Homo sapiens: one gene and its partners. The protein of the gene in region 1 interacts with the protein of each later gene in a pairwise test. Each region holds a gene or a part of one and is shown in the gene's direction. Other genes may lie near its edges.

Region 1 (7,482 bases):
TCTAGCAAACTAATAGAACCCAGAGGGGATTGTGGGAACCCCAACTTGAAGCTTTTTGGTTAGATGTTCTGGAGGCCCAGACTTGTGACTGGTTGTGTAGCAGGACGAGCCACAGACAAAACCTCTCAGACACCGAGTTGTAGAAGGAAGGGCTTTATTCAGCTGGGAGCATCGGCAAGCTACTGTCTTAAAATCTGAGCTCCCTGAGTGCACAATTTCTGTTCCTTTTAAGGGCTCACAACACTAAAGATTTCACATGAAAGGGTCGTGATTGATTTGAGCAAGCAGGGAGTACGTGACAGGGGCTGCATGCACCGGTGGTCAGAGTGAAACAGAAAAGAGCAGGGAGTTTCACAGTGTTCTTCCATACAATGCCTGGAATCTATGGGTAACATCGGGTTCTAAGTCATGAGTTAATTTTTAACTACTAGGTTTAGGCCAGGCAGGCCCAGGCCTGGTTTTGGACCTGGCGCCGGGCTGCCTGTCTTTGATTTCACTTCCTTGTTTTTTTCTTAAAACAGGTACTGAGTATAAAACAATATAAAACAATATGAGAGGGTCTCTCTCTTCCCTCAGGTGGGGCCATGGGGTTTGTGGTACTGAGCTCTTAACCTTTGAGATCTAACACTATCTCCTGATAGTGTTGGAAAGTTGAATTAGAGGATACCCGGCTCCTCTCCACTGCAGAACTTAACTTCTTGCTTGGTGTGTGGGGAGAAACTCCCACACATTTGGTCACACAAGTCTTCATGTTGATTGTTGTGGTGTGAGAGCAGAGGAAAAACAGTTTGAGTTTTTCACTCTCAGACAGCACAGTGATTCTTCATAAAACTCTATGACTACACCAACGAGCATTGGCAAAGAACAAAAAATTATTCGATGTCTTTTACCAGTTCCATAAACTGGCAGTGATTCATAGCATTTACACATATATTCGTAATATTCTTAACAAGTATATCCATGATACCTTTTCATAGTCTGCTTTAGAAAGTCCTGCATAGTATTTTCCACTTAATTCTGCATCAGTAGTATAGCTTCTTTTAATTTAAAAACTTGTCCATTCTATTTTTAAACTAGAAAGATAATTTTATTGTAATATAATCAAACAGTAATAAATATTTCAGATTAATCATCAATTACAATTTACATAGGTTATCACTAATTTGTGCTGTCTGCATTGAGGACTAAGCTCTGATTTTTTTTTTTTTAATCTTGCCTAAATTCCTATCTAAGGGGTCTGGGGAATCATGCTCTGTAAACCATACATTCTCATCAGATGGTTTTATTTAACCCTGTATATCATGACTTACTTTCCGATCTGACTCTGGCATAACATGGAAGAAAATAAAAATATTTTACCCCAAAACATGTTTCTCTGCCATATCTTGAAATGGTCGTGCAAAGCCATCCCTTGTGGGAAAAATCCACATTCTATAGAGAATCCACTTTCCCCTTGTTTTCCTTCCTTCCTTTCTAGATCCAGGAGATAATCAAGTAAGAGCCAGGCACTCTTTTAGGTCTGATAATAAACAATATACAACCTGTTCTCTCTGAAGTCTGCTATCTGAGAGCTTCCTCTGCACAATAAAACTTGGTGCCTACAATCCTTTATCTTTACCTGAACATACATTTCCTTTCTATTGATCCCAGGTCTTCAGATAAACTCAACCAATTGTAAACCAGAAAACGTTTATAGCCTGGAACACCGCCCCCGCCGCCACCCCGCCCCCGCCTTGAGTTGTCCCGCTTTTCTGAACTAAACCAATGTATTTCTTAAATATATTTGGTTGATGTCTCATGCCTCCCTAAAATATATAAAAGTAAGCCATACGCCACCCACCTTGGCACATGTTCTTAGGGCCACCTGAGGGCTGTGTCTTTGGCCATGGTCACTCATATTTGGCTCAGAATCAATCTCTAAAAATATTTTATACAGAGTTTGACTCTTTTCGTTAACAGCGTGATATATTCAAACACACTATGATCTGCGTCTTTCATTTTAATGCTGCCTGGAGTAGACCATGATATGGATGTATTGTATGCTTTTAACTCCAACTGATGTGCTTTTAGATTGCTTCCACTGTATGCAACTGCAAAGAATGCTTCGTTGCTCCCGTGTGCATTTTATTTTTCTAAGGTATATTCTGAGACATAAAATTACCACAATTTTAGAAGATTTCCTACTCATGTAAAATATTAGTAGATACTTCCAGATCACCATCCAAAATGTCATTTTACACTCCCTTCAGTGGTACAGAAGAGTACTCTTTCCCTTCTATCCTTTTCCACTCTTGGAGTCTTCTTTTTTTTCTTTTTTTGAGGCAGGGTCTCGCTCTGTCACCGAGGCTGGAGTGCAGTGGCATGATTATGGCTTAGTGCAGCCTCAACCTCTTGAGCTCAAGTGATCCTTCCACCTCAGGTTCCCGAATAGCTGGAACTACAGGCATATGCCACCACACCTGGCTAATTTTTGTATTTTTTGTAGACATGGGGTTTCTCCATGTTGCCCGGTCTGGTCTTGAACTCATGTGCTCAAGTAATCCTTGGCCTCTCAAAACTGTTGGATTACAGGCCCATGTGCCACTGAGCCTGGCCTCACTCTTGGCATTTTAAGTCTTAAAAAATTTTGCTAATCTAGGAATGAAAATCATTTTTAGTATACATTTCCCTGATAACTAGTGAGATTGAACATTTTTTCATATTTTAGTAGTGTTTCATTCTTAACATAATACCTGTATTTCTTCTGAAAATAACAAAATAATTATCTAAAGTATATACCCTGTGTTCTGTAATACCTGTATTTCTTCTGAAAATAACAAAATAATTATCTAAATAAAGTATATACCCTATGTTCTTTCTTTGGTTCTCTTTTAATGTTCCAAAAGCTCAGAAAATGCTAGAATGATTTTGAGTACCTGTGGTCCAGTTGTTGTTGGGGCAGGTCGATTTTCTTTTTGCATCTCTATGGACAAGAATCATTTGCATTACTGATTTCTACAATTTACAGAGCTGTGAAACTGCTCAAAGACAATGAAAGGGTAGAACTATTATGGAATCAAATTACTCAGTAGCGTATACCAGACAACATCTAGCATTCCGTAGAACATCCAGCAATCTTTCACTGTTTTCTGAAAGATAATACACTTAAAGCTTTTAACACATTGGCTCACAGTGAGAGCTCAGTAAATGTAATTTGCTTCTCCATTGTTAAAAGAATGAAAAACAAGATAATTGAGAATTTATAGCATTTCTGTGGAACTACAGTTCCCTGGATAGGTGCTGTATCTAGATTCATTTTTGATTTCATTGGGTCTTGCACAGTGCCTGGGAGCATTTATATACGTGGTCAGTAATTAAAAACAATTTATTTTTCCTACCTCTTAATAACTATCACAGTTGTTCAGTAATAGTTTTATTGGATAGAACTATGTTCAAGTATGTTCTAATTTATTCCCCTATCTGGAAAAATATGTATATTGTGAGAAAATAGGTTTGTCTTGCTTACATTATTATGTATCATATATTTTCATACTGGGGTTAACAAATATATTCTAAGCACCGAAACTGGTGGCCTTGAAAATGGCTAGACTAGCTGTTTCCTTTCATAGTCCAAACTGTGTGAATATAGCTAAATAAAAAATCTGGCTCTATTATAATAGCAAATGTGATTTTGTATGTGGAGTCTTAAGGCGTGATTATACTGTTTCTCACCATGAACAGTGATTTTTTACACATGATAAGGCAGGCTAGCAAATTCACATACATTACGGCTAGAATAATCCATTGCTTTAAAAACATGATTTTTACCTGCTTTTTAGATTGAGTGTTCTATAAAAATTTTTTCTTAAGTGAAAAAAATATGCAGAGGCTAATGTAGACTGTAAAATGAAGGAGAAGCTTAGCTTTACTGTGGAGTCTGGGTCTGGGTGTAACCTAACTAGCTAGAGGATATGCAATTCCTGATTGACAGCAGATCCAGCATTATGCAGATTTTGTAAGGGAGAACACTCAGCTCAGAAACAGTGATGAGAGGCTCTGTTAGGAATTACTACATTCACTACTCATATCTTTTAGTTTTCTGTCTACTGGATTTGTAAATAAATAGCACAAAACAGTTCCTCTTTTGTTTTTATTAAAGTGATACTGCAATGCAGTTCAGTCTGTCAGCTAGGCATACATGTGTGAAATTTGATATTCTCACTAAATTAGCTAATTTTTAGCTGTGTTCCATGCTTATCTCTAGACCTTTGTGTATTAAATCCTGTCTCGAGCTGTTCCCTTTATACACAAGTGTGTTTTGCTTGTGCCTTCCTGTCTTCTTCAGTGAGAAGCTTTATGTAGGTCAGGCTTGGCTTAAGCAGATTTCCTGAACCTGCGTCAGCTTAAGCTGGAGGAATTTTAATAAACCCTCCCCTGTAGGCGTGGGCCTAAATGAGGCTAGCCTAGTTAAGCCTGATCTTTTTCTGTTTGTGAAAAGAGCTGAGCAGAGCTGAAGGCTGCATGGTGGTTTCAGAAACTGCCTACTTAATTTGAAAAGAACAATGGTAGGAAAGGCTAGATCTTCCAATTTTACCTTATCCGAAAAGCTTGATTTGCTAAAGCTTGTGAAGCCATATGTGAAAATTCTCGAAGAACACACTAATAAACATTCAGTAATAGTAGAAAAGAATAGATGTTGGGATATCATAGCAGTTAACTATAATGCAATTGGAGTAGACCGCCCTCCTCGAACAGCACAGGGCCTACGCACCCTTTATAAAAGGCTCAAAGAATATGCCAAACAGGAGCTATTGCAGCAAAAAGAGACCCAATCAGATTTTAAAAGCAATATTTCTGAGCCAACCAAGAAAGTTATGGAGATGATTCCCCAGATTTCCAGTTTTTGCCTGGTAAGAGACAGGAACCACATACAAAGGTAAGCTTTATTTTGTTTTGTTATGGAAAATTATGGCGCCTCCTATCTATTGGGCTTTGGCTTAGTCGTGATAGAGATATGCATAGTAAGCATCCCCACAACGGGAGCAATGAATAGTGTCTTTGTTTTGCATTTTTTAAAAAGAGAAAAGTGAGGCTATGAGGAATTTTTCTGTTGCATTTAAGCTACTTTTTACTGTCTTCCCCTCCCCCTTCCCTCCTGTAGTTTCTAAAAGTAAAGGTTAGGGAGGAATAAGTGGGTTGAAATTTGTGACATCACTTCATAAACTTCTTAAGCTTTAAAATTAAATTATTTAGTTTGCTTCTGAGAGATACTTTTTTTCTCATTTAAGATTACATTTCACTGGAATTTTCAATTTTATATAAAATTTATATAAAGTTAGCAGTTTCTAGAGAAATGGAACCTTGCTTTTTTATGAATTGTCATTGTCTACACTTATTGAATATATGTTAACTAACAAATATAAACAAAATCAATAAGTAAACTTGTTAATGGCATGATTGTGTATATGAAGACAGTTTAAATTATTTTTCTAACACGTTTAAAATAAAGATGAACACAACTAAAGGGAGTTAATGCCTAATTAGGGATTCAGTTTACTTAATAAAATTAAAAGTTTTTTGTTGTTGTTGTTTTTATTCCTTAATAGTCTAGTTTCACTTTGATCTTGGGTCGTATAGGAAAGAGTAAGCTTTCTCTTACTGCTTTGCAAGGATATCAAATTATGAATTTTAAAATACCCCTAAGAGCAACTGGGTTTTTTTAGAGTTAGAAGCAATTTTTTGGTTAAACTTGTCTTCTATGTAACTATTTGCCTTGGAATTTTCAAAAGTATTATCTTGCCACTAATTCAGATTGTAACCTCTGGCAAAATATAAAAATGGCAGCTACATTCTTATTCTGAACCATTTAGGGTAATTTAAACAAATTGTAAACTCCTTGTTAGTTTGAGGAGCCTTTCAAACAAAGCTTTACACAATGTGCTTTTCTATTGGTGGAAGAGGCATTATATAAGCAAATTATTGATTACTATGAAATCCCTTTGAAATTAGGAGAGAAGCAGAAAAAAACCACTTTGTAGCCAAGTGCATATGTTATTTTGGTAATTTACTAGGAAAGTATTTTTGAGCCTAGCTTCTTACCAGATACTGCTTATTTCTACTTGATAGCACAGTAAAAAAAATATCACCAGTGGGAATCCAGGACATGAATACACAGTGGATTAATTCTTGGGGCCACTGGTTAAAATGTTCACTGTGATGACAAATGATGAAATCCCAATAGCTAGATATCCAGAAAACTACGCAGTAAAATTGTTTTATACTGTGCTACTTATGCAGAATTTTCTCTCCCTTGAACCATGGAGAAAAGTGTTTTTTGCATCGCAGGTATAAAACTGTACCCTTTGGTTAGTAGGTATAGGTTTTTATAATTTGAAAACGACATGTAGAAACTGTAATTTTAGTTAGTTGCATATTTTAAAAATAACAGTGAGTAGAAGAAAAATAATATATAAATATACAAGTATCTGGTTACATTTTGACTATTTGTGTGTGTGAATATTTACAATATTCACACACAAAAAATCTTTTGGGATATGAACATTTCTCTGATAAAAATGAGTTGATTTGTACATTTCTATACCTATGGCTTAAATAATACCAATTTGTTAGGTTTTAAAGGGAAGAATATAAGAAACATGCCTTTTAAATTCTTATGTTACTGTGTCTACATTGACATTTTCTCTGTATTAGCTTATTTCTTTAATATATATATTTAATGTGCTTATATTTATTTGATTGATATCATCCTTGAATCTTAATAATCTCAGAAGTTTATAATTATTCTATAATCTTAACTATACTTCTACATAAATATGCCTGTTAATCTTACCAAACTCTTCCTTTTTAATAAGGAAAATACTAGTGTTTGCGTTAACATACTTAAAAATATATACCTGTTTTGTAAGGCTATTTATTTTCTGTAACTCACATTGACTTATGTCTTTATTTTTACCTCTTCCTAATATCAGTTTATATTTTGTGTTTTTGTAAACTGATCTTCAAAGTTCTGATTCTCAAGTCCTTCTCTGTCATTTTTGTGACCTGCTCTAAAGCTTTTTTTCTCCCTTTTTATATTGTTATGCCTTAGTTGTAATGTTTTAGCTAAAATGGAAAGGAATGTTCCAGATATGAGGCATATTTTTAATTTACTTGGTAGTATTATGTCTATGTTTATACTCTCTATTTTACATACTAATTTGAAATAGTAATTATGTGGTTTTAAAAACTTAATTTTCATATGCAATTTTAGCCTTTTCCCATTCCAGGTTTTAGCAGAGCTATTAATAGAAGCAGAGCTTGCTACTTTGAATTACATTTATAATTAATTGTTTTGTTTTTGGAAATAATAAAATGACACAAACAGAGACAAGAACAAAAATGAATTTATATAACCTACAAATAGATTTTTTATTATATACTATATATGTTTCATTTTGTCTCTTAGATAAATATCTGATATTTCTGGCAATTTAATGGCATTAG
Region 2 (4,679 bases), on another chromosome or scaffold:
GTAAAAGGCAGATGGCCTTTTGATGGAGATTCCAGGTGAATGAATGAGCATTTCAGGCAGCTGCGTATAACCGAGCCCTAGCTCACATGACTCAGGAACCATCCCTTCATTCAGCACAGTTTCTTGGTCCTCCAAGTTTGCTTTTGAGGGACAGAAAATCAGGTCGGGAGGCCACTGACCATGGTGGCAGTTGCTCCTGTAGTCAAGACTAGCTCCTTGGCCAATGCACACACATGCTCTGAAGCTTAGGCCTTTGTTTCTAGTCAAAAGGTGGGCTGCTCTTGGGCTACAGCATGACAGAGACATGCCGAAGCCCTTTTCCTTTCAGATACGGCGTGGAGATCAGCTCCTCCACCAGCATAATGGGACCCAGCATCCCTGCCAAAACTCGGGAGGTGCTCGTCAGCCACCTGGCATCTTACAACACATGGGCTTTACAAGGCATGTATGGAGTTTCTTGTGGGCTTGGCAGGTGGCTGTGAAGGCCATCAGTGTCTGAAGCCTGTACTTGCCCCTCCCCAGGTCCTGTGAGTGGAGAGGCACAGAGTGTTCTGGGCTAGCTGAGTGTGGAGGCTGGGTGGCTCTGATGCTAGCCAATCACTCTACGCTCTAGGCTCACACCTTTCCACCTTCGACTTCGCCAGCAGAAGTCTTGAGTTCAATCTCATTGCCCTGGCTTGGGTCACATGTCCATCCATGAACCAATCACTAGACTGGGTGCGGAAAGCTCTGATTTGCCAAGTTCGGGTCATGTGTCTCACTAGGTAAGAGCAGAGGAGGATCACCCCCAGGGAAGACCAGAGTGCTCTTTCAGAAGAGTGGGACAATCGCTGGATGGCTCTTTGCACCACTCACTCCTGTTCTCTGCTAGGGCTGCTGGGACTCACAAGGGGTAGGTTGTGGCAGCTGCCCTGTTTTGGGTTCTGACTTGGCTTGTGTCCCTGCAGGGATTGAGTTTGTAGCTGCCCAGCTCAAGTCCATGGTGCTAACCTTGGGCCTGATTGACCTGCGCCTGACAGTGGAGCAGGCCGTGCTGCTGTCACGCCTGGAGGAGGAGTACCAGGTGAGGAGCAGCACCTCAGGTCCCGCCTCCCCCTTCCTAGTTCAGACTCACTTTGGGGGAGCAGCTAACCCATCTGAAATATAGTTATGCATACTTGGCTTTTATTACTTTTATGTACACGCAGAAATCAAAATCAAGGACCAGCAGAAGTATTGTCAAGTAGGCCTGGCATGGTGGTTCACACCTGTAATCCCAGCACTTTGGGTGGCTGAGGAGGATGGATCATTTGAGGTCAGGAGTTTGAGACCAGCCTGGGCAACATGGCAAAACCCTCTCTCTACAAAAATACAAAAATTAGCACCTGTAGTCTCAGCTACTTGGGAAGCTGACGTGGGAGGATTGCTTGAACCTGGGAGGTGGAGGTTGTAGTGAGCCAGGATTGTGCCACTGCATTCTAGCCTGGGTGACAGAGTGAGACCCTGTCTCAAAAAAAAAAAAAAAAAAGGTAAGATAATAACAATAAAAAAATAACAGTAAGTGCTACCGCTGTGTTCCTGCATTGTATCCATCTCACCTCCTCTCAGCAGCCTGGGCAGGTAGGAGCTGTGGTTATCTCTGTTTTACACAGAAGGAAATGGAGGTGCAAGGTTGCACCTCTGGAAAATGTGCCAGCTGGGGTTTGAAGCCAGGTCTGGTGATTTTAGGGCCAAGGCCGTCAGGCCTCACTCTGCACAAGGAGGTTCACGGGTGGATAAAGACCATCTGGGCTTGATAAAGCCTGCAGAACAGGCCCTGCCAAGATGACTGAGAACCCGTTTGTGCTCCTTCATCAGCTGAGCCTTCATACCCTGACATTTTATCTGGCTGGCAGAGGAGCATAGGGGTAGCTGCTGTTTGTATACAAGTTTTGATTTAGTGGGCTCAGAATTAAGGTTTTGCCACAGTATGGTTTGCATTTTTTAACTCTGAAAATTATAGCCATCTTTGCAGTCTTTTTATTGTTATTCCACCAACCTCAGAAGGTTAATTGCTATTATGAATTGGTCCCTAATATGGTAAAAACAAACAAACAAAAAAACACAAAACTTTTTGTGATGTATTTCCCTAGTTCTTGTAGTCTTCTGCTCAGAAAAATGCCAGGGAAAAAACTATTTTTGTATAACAAAGGAGGCCCGCTACTATTCTCTGGATGTCAGAACTGATTACATAGGAAGGGGGTGACTTGTAGGGCTGGTGGGAAGCCAGTCTGGGCTCTGCTTCTGACTATGGGACCCAAGCCAGGCCATCATTCTCTGAACTTTGGTTTCGATCCTCTACAAACAGAGGAATAACCTGAATTATGTATGTGATGGTATACAATGAAAGTATGGAATACTCTTCAGATGACATATTACAATTGTACAGTTTGGGACCAGGCAGCCCAGAAGTTCAAATAGCTTGTGTAGCATGGTGGATTCTGAGTTCCTGGATGAGCTGGGGCGGCCAGGCCAGGCCTCTTGGGCAACTAGCCAGGGAGGAGCCAGCAAGGTTTGGTTGGACTTACACTGTCTGGACAGCCACATCGTGTGTCTGAGCGTTCCTCCCTCTTGTTTTTAGAGCTCCAGACAGAGAATCTGCAACTTGTCCCCAGTGTGCAGAGCAGAGGCATCTGTAGTTCTGTGACTACCACAAGAGTCAGAGTTGAAGCCACTGCGTGGCCTTACTTGATTTAGTTATTCCACCCACATGGCGCTGGGGGGCACTTGTAGCCCAGCATGGCAAGGCAACTTGGAGAGGCTGTCCATTCACAGGCTTTCTGGGAGGAAGTGTAGGAGAAGGGATGGCACATAAGGCCTCCTCAAAGAAGTCACATGGGTGGTTCTGGTACCCAGCCTGCCCAGTGGTGGGTGGGCAGCCACTGGCCCTGGGCCTGGGCCTGGACTGCACTTCTTCCAGACCATCCATGCCACAGAGAGCACAGGTGCCTGCTCCGGCTCCCTGGGGGTGGGGTGGTGGGGTGTGTGTGTGTGTGTGTGTGTGTGTGTGTGTGTGTGTGGTGTTTTTGAGACAGGGTCTTGCTCTGTTGCCCAAGTGGGAGTGCAGCGGTGTGATCTTGGCTTACTGCAGCTTCAGCCTCCTGGGCTCAAAGCAGTCCTCCTACCTCAGTCTCTCAAATAGCTGGGACTACAGGTGCACCCCCACCACACCCAGCTAATTTTTAAACCTTTTTGTAGAGGCGAGGTTGCACCATATTTGCCCAGGCTGGTCTTGAACTCCTGGATTCAAGCAGTCTTCCTGCCTCGGTCTCCCAGAGTGCTGGGATTACAGGCGTGAGCCACCGTGTCTGGCGTACCTGGGTGTTCTTACCTGCCACCTCCCCCTAGGCATGTCTCATGTGTTTTGGCAAGATACAAACCTGTTGCCCTCAGCCAACCTATTGGAATGGAACGTGGCTTTGGTCAGGAGGCAGCCAGGCACTGGCCACTCACCCAGCAACTTGTCTTGTCCTTCCCTCAGATCCAGAAGTGGGGCAACATTGAGTGGGCCCATGACTATGAGCTGCAGGAGCTGCGGGCCCGCACCGCCGCCGGCACCCTCTTCATCCATCTCTGCTCCGAGAGCACCACAGTCAAGCACAAGCTCCTGAAGGAGTGAGGCCTGGGCAGAGCACACTCAGCAGGATAGAGGCAGTGCAGCCACAGCTCCCCCGGCCTTCAGGGCTCCCCAGCCTGTGGGGCTGGCTTCCTTGGCTTTTGGGGACTCGGCCTCAGCGTCACCCTGAGATTCCCCCCGAGACACAGTGCGCTAGTACGGCTGTCCGGAGGTCAGCCTGATTTCAACCCAGGTGCCCCTGGCCTGGCCAGCAGTGAATGTAGGAGATGAATTGTGCAAGTGACTTTCTCTCGACTCTGATTTTATTAAATATTTCTCCACCCTGGAAATGTGCTGAGCCCTGTTTTCACGTATGCCTCTGCACTTCTCCATTCTTCCTGTTTTGTCTAGGTTCCAGAGGGTTAAACAGCTTATCTCCCATGGCGTGTTTGGATATCTGCTGCCTGTGGTCAGGAACCTTGCACTGGGGAAACAATCATGTAATCCACAGACAACTCTATTTGTGTTCTTCAGCCTCAGCCTGAAGGCTTTTTTTTGGCTGGCTTTTAATCAAACAATCTTTTGAAACAATTGTGGTCTAAGCTGGTTGTTTCTATTTGTTCCTACTGTTCTAAAACAAATGATTTACTCTAGAAAGTAGAAAATAGAAGTTGTTTCTGGGCTAAAAGCCTGGACAGGCTTGACAAGGTCACCTGATGTGCATGTTTCCGCTCATCTCCCACCCAGGAGTCCTAAGGGTCCTCCTGACATAGCCACCTCTAGTGTCCCAGGAGGCAGGCGCTACTTTCTGGTGTCAGGCCAGTAAGAGGGCAGGGGGGAAGAGTGGTTCTCAGGCAGACAGGCTCTCTCAGCCCTGTGTCCTTGCCAGCCTGAGTAAGGTAATGGCATCAACCCTGCTCACAGGGCACTGATCGCATGCTGGGTGCCTCTCCACGCTTCCCATGCACTGTCTCCCTGAACTGTTCCTCGAAGGCACTGTGAGGTACTGTCACAGATGACACCAGGGCTGCGGGGGTGACATGGTGGAGCTGGGATGCCCTGCCTGCACTCTGCTCTTCTGGAGGGTCCTCAGGTCCTTGTGGCT
Region 3 (7,568 bases), on another chromosome or scaffold:
CATGAATCAATTACCTCCCACCAGGTCCCTCCCACAACACATAGGCATTATAGGAACTACAATTCAAGATGAGATTTGGGTGGGGACACAGCCAAACCATATCAACCAAGAGGTGACTGAAGCCAGACTTTCTGGTCCTTCATCATTCCTCCACTAAATGTTGCCATAAATCTATGGTAGAATAACATACCTTCTAGAGAAATTAGCAAAATGGACAAATGGTATAGAAAAGGAGAATAAGAGGTATGGAACTGATCTGGAGATTACTACAGGTACAAGAAGGTGTTAAATGGGATATTTCCTGACTCAGAGTTTTGTCCAAGGCCCCAAAGGTGAGAGCACAATGTTAAGTGTCTGCTGGTTCTAATGAGAGATGTTAGACCATTTACCCAGGGCTTACTAAATGATGAGCCAAAAACTCCTGTCACCCATGCCCGTTTGCCACTCTTCAGCTTATGTACAGGAGAAGGCAACAGTGAAAGAGGGTTGTTACAGTTCTGGAAGCTTCCTTCCCACCCCCACTCCAAGGCAAGTGAGGGTGACTTTGAGAGAACCACTCAGAGAGATTGACAGGTGCCCCTGTTGTAGAATGGTGTCTGACTCTCCAAAAAAAAAAAAAAAAAAAAAAAAAAAACAATAAATAGGCGAGAAGCCAGCTAGAGCTACCTAAGACCAACTGTGAAGATGACGAGAAGGGCTGCAGAGGGAACAGCCCTGCTTCCAGGGCTGGGCGGGGAGCAGGGCCGCTGGGTTGTTCCCATGGGCTAAGTGCACATCAAGCAAGCAGCTGGGCCTAGGCTGTCTTGGAAGGACCCTGACCAACAGGCCTGCAGGTGAGGTAACCCGACAGAAAAAGTTTGTGTGGGATGTGCTACCAAAAGCAGGAGCCAGCGGTTAACCAGAGGGTGCAGCATCTGAACCATGGAATGGGTAATAAGGGGCTACCAGCAAAGGGAGGGTCCTCCAAAAAATCTCCAAAGTGGGCCCCTCCAAAGAACAAAAGAGGTATTAGGTTGGTTTAAGCAATCTGTGGCCCACCAGCCAGGGACTGCCTGACCCGTTGAACTAGCTCTTCTGGAAGCCTCTGGGGATGTTCACTGGAGATACCATGTTCGCTGCTTCTCTGTCATTTCACCTGCATAAGTCTGAGAAATATGTTGCAGAACTTAAACATAAAGTTTCTGTTTCTATAATGTATGACTTTTTGTTCTATTTCCTAATATTCTGTAACTCCTGAGATTTCAAGGGAACTCTTCATCGTTTTAATCCCATGCCTTATGTACTGTGACTTATAAGAACATCCCCAGTTAAGCCCAGTGTCTGGTCCTGGTGTTTTATCAGGAAATGAACACCGGCCGGCACCTCAGAACCCAGAAAGAGGCAGTTTCTATGACCTCATTCCATGGAAAACATCTGTAACTGTTCCCTCAGCAATGTGTAACATTAGCCTCTGGAGAAGGCCCATAAGATTTTGTCTCTCTTCCGTGGGAATTTGCAGGAAAGGGCTGTCTGCATGAGCTCAGAATATCTATTAATATATTGCCACTCAGAGACTTAATAAGGATTGAAAAGAGGTTTCCGCTGCACTAAGGGAAATTTATCAAAGAGAATTCCAGAGTATTGAAGCAGCTGAAAGATGATTTTAAAACAAAGGCCTGAAAACTATGCATGATAAATTATCATAGATGTGAGTACTTTTATAGGTATTCCATTTTTAAATTGCCCAAAAGAACAAACTTTTCAGCAACCTCTTTAGAATCCACTGGCAGCCCTAGATTCATTCCAGATGAACTCAGCCAGAAATTTCTACAGCAATGAGCATGTTCTATATCTGTGCTATCCAATATGGTACCCACTAGCCACAGGTGGCTATTGAGAACTTGACATTTAGCTAGTGCAACTGAGGAACTGAAGTTTAAATTTTATCTGAATAGCCACATGTGGCTACTGTAGTAGACAAGGCAGGACTACGCAGTAATTATAGCTTGCCTCTTAGTTGAAATAATGGTCTTATCCTTCACACCAGAGAAAACACTAGGTTGTTTTTGATTTTAGACTTTTGAGTAATTTCTGTTTTTTTCTTCAGCATAGAGTTCATGAGAAATTGATTATAATATGCCTCAAAGCTCTAATGACCACTTCTGTAGTAACTTCTAGTTTCCAAACTGACTCCTTCAGATTGAGCCTTTCATAGTTTGAGTGCCATTGTTTTGACAAATATCAGATATTTTAAGAATTGCATGTTACAAATCTGATCACAAAGAAAGTATTTTTCCTAGGTAACTGTCTAAAACTAGAGATGGTTGGTCTAGGAGCCAATAGTCCTTCGGATTTTTAAATCAGTGTTTACAAAGTGGGGCAAGAGTACTCATAAAATGAACCAAAAAAGTAACAATGAGAAGAGAAATACCATTAAAGCATGTTAAATTAAATAAGCAGGAGGCTATTGGCTCAAGGCTGTCTCTGTACTTTGATTTTCTACACAATGAATTGCAATTTAACTTAGTACATAAATACACTGAAAGCTTAACCTAAGGAAGAGTATAATAAACAGCCAAGTCTCAGCCAAACACAAGCAGACAAGCTTCAGCCAATCACAAGCTGCCAACTTCTCAGATCATATCCAAATGATCTGATCATTGATTGCAACCAATCAGCCTATTTCTGTATTTTACTTCCATTCTCTGTCTATAAATACTCACGGCCCACAAAGCTCTCTGAACCTATTCTGATTCTGAGTGCTGTCCGATTCATGAATCATTCTTTGCTCACATAAACTCTGCCAAATTTAAATTACGTCAATTTTTTTTTATTTTAACAGGCAAAAGTAAAGATTATCAAGCATTCTTTTCCAACCAAACTTTAGTCAGTCTCCTGACTAGGCCTATCTGTGCACTTCCTTGTAAAATCCAGTTTTAGCAAAAAGCCTTGATAAATCAGTTTAGCCAAAAGCAACCACCCTCAATATCTGATCACCCTTAATATCTGATTTGGTTCCTCATCCTCCACCAACCTCCAGGTGACATCTGATCACCCTGGCCCGTCTTCAGCAAGAATCTTGTCAGGTTGGTTTAGACAGAATCCCCCTTACCCCTGATGTTTCCTCTTAATAATTTTCCATCCACTGACCCCCCTACCTTGCTCCTTGGCTATAAATTCTCACTTTTCCATGCTACAATTGAAGTTGAGCCCAATCTCTCTTCCCCACTGCAAGACCCTGTTGCAGTGGTACCTATGTCTATCTCAATGGTCCTGAATAAAGTCTTCCTTACCATGCTTTAACAAGTGACAAGTGTCATTAAATAATTTTTTTTTTTTGAGACCAAGTCTTGCTCTGTCGCTAGGCTGGAGTGCAATGGCTCGATCTCAGCTCACTGCAACCTCCGCCTCCCGGGTTCAAGCGATTCTCCTGCCTCAGCCTCCCAAGTAGCTGGGATTACAAGCACGTGCCACCACGCCTGGCTAATTTTTTGTATTTTTAGTAGAGACGGGGTTTCACCGTGTTAGCCAGGATGGTCTCGATCTCCTGACCTCATGATCCGCCTGCCTCGACCTCCCAAAGTGCTGGGATTACAGGCATGAGCCACCACGCCCAGCCAAATAATTTTTTCTTTAAAAAGGTATTATATAATCCTTAAACATTTTAGCCCTATAATAGACAGCAAGAAAAAAGTAACCCCTGACAGCTCTGAGCTGCCCCGGCAGTCACAGCTGGGCCTTGGTGCTGCGTGGAACATAAATACTTCACAGAACACCATCAGACGTGGCCACTCTTTGACCAGATGGATCAAGACAAAAACAAGACTCCTTCGTAATCACGTGGGAATGCTGAAAAAACGTAAACATTGTCCAAACCACAAAAATGACCAAACATCCCCTATCCCAGTTAATGAGTCACTGGTCTTGTCTCCCCTCCTTTTAGGTAAGATTTATTATGATACTTAATCATACAATCGCCCTCCTTCCTGCCAGCACCCAGTCCAGAGTATTGGATTGGATACTCTGTTTCCCTGAACCTTTCCCCAAATTACCTTGGGGTAAGGCATCAGCAAAGGAGGCTGTCACATTCGTTCAACCATCACTGTGCTTTTACTGGCCCTTTGCAGGCAAAGAATGAGAATATGCACAGATGAGAAGTCCAGGATGCACAAGACCACTCAATTAACATTTACTACTTTCATATCAACTGATGCATGCTAGGATGCTAAAAACACTTTTTGAATTAATTACTGCGTTAAATAGATTCACATTTATGTCTACAGTTATGTGAACATCTAGCTGAGCACTGTCTTGACTGTCCTGAGTAGAAGCAGAAAAGATAAGTTGTAAAGTACATCAACAAACTTTGCTGCTAAAAAACGAAAGTGCAGTTTCTTTCTCTCGGGCCCGGGGCGGGGCCATGGCTCCTCCTCTAGGAAGCCGCGCGAGCGCAGTCCCACGGCAGCCATTTCCCTAGCGCGCATGCACTGGGTCCCAGGACCACGTGCGCCGGCCTGTGGGCTTGGATTGGCTGAGCCTTGACGTTGTCCCAGTCCCGGTGATCGGAAGTTCTCCGTGGGCACTGGGCGGCTGAAGGCTCCGGAACTGCGCCTGCGCTTTTCGGTGAGTCATGCTTCAGGTTTGCCAGGGCCTGTGTCCCGCAAAAAGGCGAGCCCTTATTCCCAGCGGAAGCCCACCCCGGCTCGCGGCAGCTTTCCGGTGCGCCCTGGGCGGCGTAGATCCGAAGGTGCTCGCACCCCCGCCCCTTCCTCTCCGACTGTCGAGGTCGCCAGAGTGGGCTGAACCCTCGGGACTGTCGCTGTTTGTGTGCTGGGTGCCGGGCCGTCATCCCAAGATGATTAGCGGCAGGCTTTGCATGTTGCTCGACCCCACCCACCGGAACTCGAACCCGGGCTAGACCGGGCAGTTGGGCTGGTCCCTTCCTCTCGCTGCACCTTTACTAGGGGTCACCATTAAGGGAAATGGTCCTAGTGCAGTGCTGAGTGGCTGTTCAGTAACCGCTACACCGCTGCCAACATTTGGCATCGTTTCTCTCCATAGAGGGCGGGGCTCCCTGTGAAGCTGGGGAGCTGTTAAGTGGGTTAGGGCTAGAAAGTTACAGTTTCTCTTTAGGCTTTAAAGAGATCTAAAGATCTGAACAGATCTAGGTTATTTTTGACTTGTTACAAACTTCTGGAAACATTGTTTCCAGACCTTTCCTCTCGTTCTTCTCAGGGTTTAGGCCATTTTTGTGCAGATGTGTGCACCTTGCTTACTATAATATTAGCTAATCTTTATAAGTTTTTATATGGATCCAATACCATATTTCGTGCCTACTTTTCCTGGCACTGTATACACTTTTTGGTATAGGTATGCACCTAAGCAAGCATTATCCATATTAGCATCAGTTCTAGAACCGTGGCGTCCCAATAATGATAGCCATTAGTTACATAAGGCTTGATCACTTGAAATGTGGCTAGTCCGAATTGAGATGTGCTGTAAGTGTAAGACACAGTGAATTTTCGAGAATTAGCATGAAAAAGAATGTAAAATATCTCAATTTGTTTATATTAATCACATGTTGAAATGACTATTCTGGATACACTGGGTTAAATAAAATGTATAATTAATTTCACCAATTTTTATTTTTTAACATGACTACTGGAAAATTTTAAATCATATTTGTGGTTTACATGTTATATATATGTTGCACAGCCCTGCTCTAGAAAAGGGTCAACAAACTATGGCCTGCAGCCAAATCCAGCCTGCCTGTTTTTGTAAACAAGTGTTACCAGAGCAAGATCATGCCTATCCATTTATGTTATTTTCTGTATCTGCTGTTGCTGCTACAATAGCAGCAGAGTTGAGTAGTCCATAGAGATTGTATGGCCTACAAAGCCTAGAATATATACCTTCTGATCTTTAACAGAAAAAGTGTGCTGACCCCCTGCTGTAGAACAATGCCTGGTTTGGTAGATATTTTTAAGCCTTTTAATTGTAGATTCACATCCTATTATTCACACTTACTGTGTGACAGCCATAGTTCAAAGCACTTTATCAAGACTTTCATTTAATTCTCATTAATCCTAGGATGTTGGATTTCTCCCATTTTGTAGATGAGGAAATTGAGGCACAGAATGGTCAAGAAACTTATCCAACTTGCTCAGCACCCCTCACTTCTGGGAACTGGACCTGCTTGACCTTCCTTATGCAAATGTTTTGACCCCTCAAACCCACTTCATTAGCCCACAGTGGGCACCATGGTTTTTTTGTTTGTTTGTTTGTTTGTTTTGTTTTTTTTAACAAGATTTATTTGAACTAGAATTTTTGAATGATTTTTTTGAACTAGAATCGAGATGGGCTTGGTCTCCTACGAAAGAAGCCAAGGGGCACTGGGCTTAGGTGCAATGAGTACAAGCAAGCTGGTGTGTAGTGAAAAGAAATGAAGCTCCCAAGCAGAGAAGAGAGAGAGCATCCTGGATGCTCATTACTCATTTAACAACAACAAAAATGTGTTAAGTAATAGTAAGCACTGACTGGGTGTTTGCTAGGTGTGTATAGGTGAATAAAACATGTGGATCTTCTCTTATGGTCTTGTGGGGAAGGCAGTAAAAACGTTTTTTAAATGTGATTAACACCATGAAAAAAACTTGCAAATTATTTACTGTTTTTAGCAGGTTTCCTCACCTGTAAGATGAAAATAAGCCATTATCTGTATTGCAGGAGTATTGTGAGGATTGAGATGACTGGAGTGTGTGTGGCCTGGAGAGTTGCTCAATAAATATATGTTGCCTTCCACTGTGAAGAGGTAAGTGAGAGGGTGAATATCAGGAATTGTGTACATTATGACACTTAAAATATTACAGTTGTCATTTGTAATTTGTAGAGAAGGTTGTCAGCTGCATTGTACACAGTAGGTGTTTTAAATCTTTTCTGACTGAATGGGACTCATCTAGAAAAGCCAGTCATAGAGTTGTCTGCATTCGGTCCAGGAGCAGAACCAGAGCTGTCTTTGGGGCTGATGGCAGCCTAACTGGCAGGTCCTGCTGGGGTGTGGAAGAGGGTTGTATGCCTGTGTGTGGTTTAAATCAGAGTCACCCTGGAGAGCTGAGCCAATATGCAGGCCCTACCCTCAGAGATCCTAATTCATCCTATCTGGAGTGAGGCCCTGCCATTGTTTGTTTTTGTTTTTTGTTGTTTAATTTCCCCAGAGGATTCTAATGTGCAGCCAGGCTTGAGAACCACTAATGGTGAGAGATCAGCCAGGCTCGGGATGCTGCTTGAGCAAAGGCACAGAGCCGTGCCCATCAGTGGTTGCGAGTAGTCAAGAGGGAGGCCTGCTAGGGCTCTTTTTGCCACTGGCCAAGGAGCTTTGGCTCCATCATGAAAGCAAGGGGAAACCTCTCAAGGGCTTTCAGCAGGAAAATGAGGGAGTATCTTTCTGAGATCTGTACTAGAGGATGATCCCTCTAACAAAGTGCCAGACTCACAGTTGGGCCTTGTGAGTGCCAGAAGTACAGTGAAGGCAGTAAAGAAGCAAATTGTAGCTGTCCAGATGATGGCGAGCCCAGATAGGGTTTGGTGCCATC

What was found.
Region 2: the proteins of FSBP (region 1) and ATPAF2 interact in binary tests that used the Homo sapiens proteins (3 or more experiments, as listed by UniProt).
Region 3: the proteins of FSBP (region 1) and TCEANC interact in binary tests that used the Homo sapiens proteins (3 or more experiments, as listed by UniProt).

The regions. Positions count from the first base shown.
Region 1 is NC_000008.11:94,433,928-94,441,409, reverse strand, and holds the start of FSBP (fibrinogen silencer-binding protein), read left to right. Parts: upstream 1-4,465; 5' UTR 4,466-4,541; coding exon 4,542-4,915; intron 4,916-7,482. UniProt on the Homo sapiens protein: Transcriptional repressor that down-regulates the expression of the fibrinogen gamma chain. Represses transcription of GSK3B gene promoter via its interaction with APBA1.
Region 2 is NC_000017.11:18,017,507-18,022,185, reverse strand, and holds the end of ATPAF2 (ATP synthase mitochondrial F1 complex assembly factor 2), read left to right. Parts: intron 1-328; coding exon 329-441; intron 442-522; exon of another isoform or gene 523-764; intron 765-947; coding exon 948-1,063; intron 1,064-1,187; coding exon of another isoform or gene 1,188-1,226; exon of another isoform or gene 1,227-1,546; intron 1,547-3,499; coding exon 3,500-3,637; 3' UTR 3,638-4,165; downstream 4,166-4,679. UniProt on the Homo sapiens protein: Plays a role in the assembly of the F1 component of the mitochondrial ATP synthase (ATPase).
Region 3 is NC_000023.11:13,648,587-13,656,154, forward strand, and holds the start of TCEANC (transcription elongation factor A N-terminal and central domain-containing protein), read left to right. Parts: upstream 1-4,554; 5' UTR 4,555-4,602; exon of another isoform or gene 4,603-4,853; intron 4,854-6,702; 5' UTR 6,703-6,787; intron 6,788-7,568.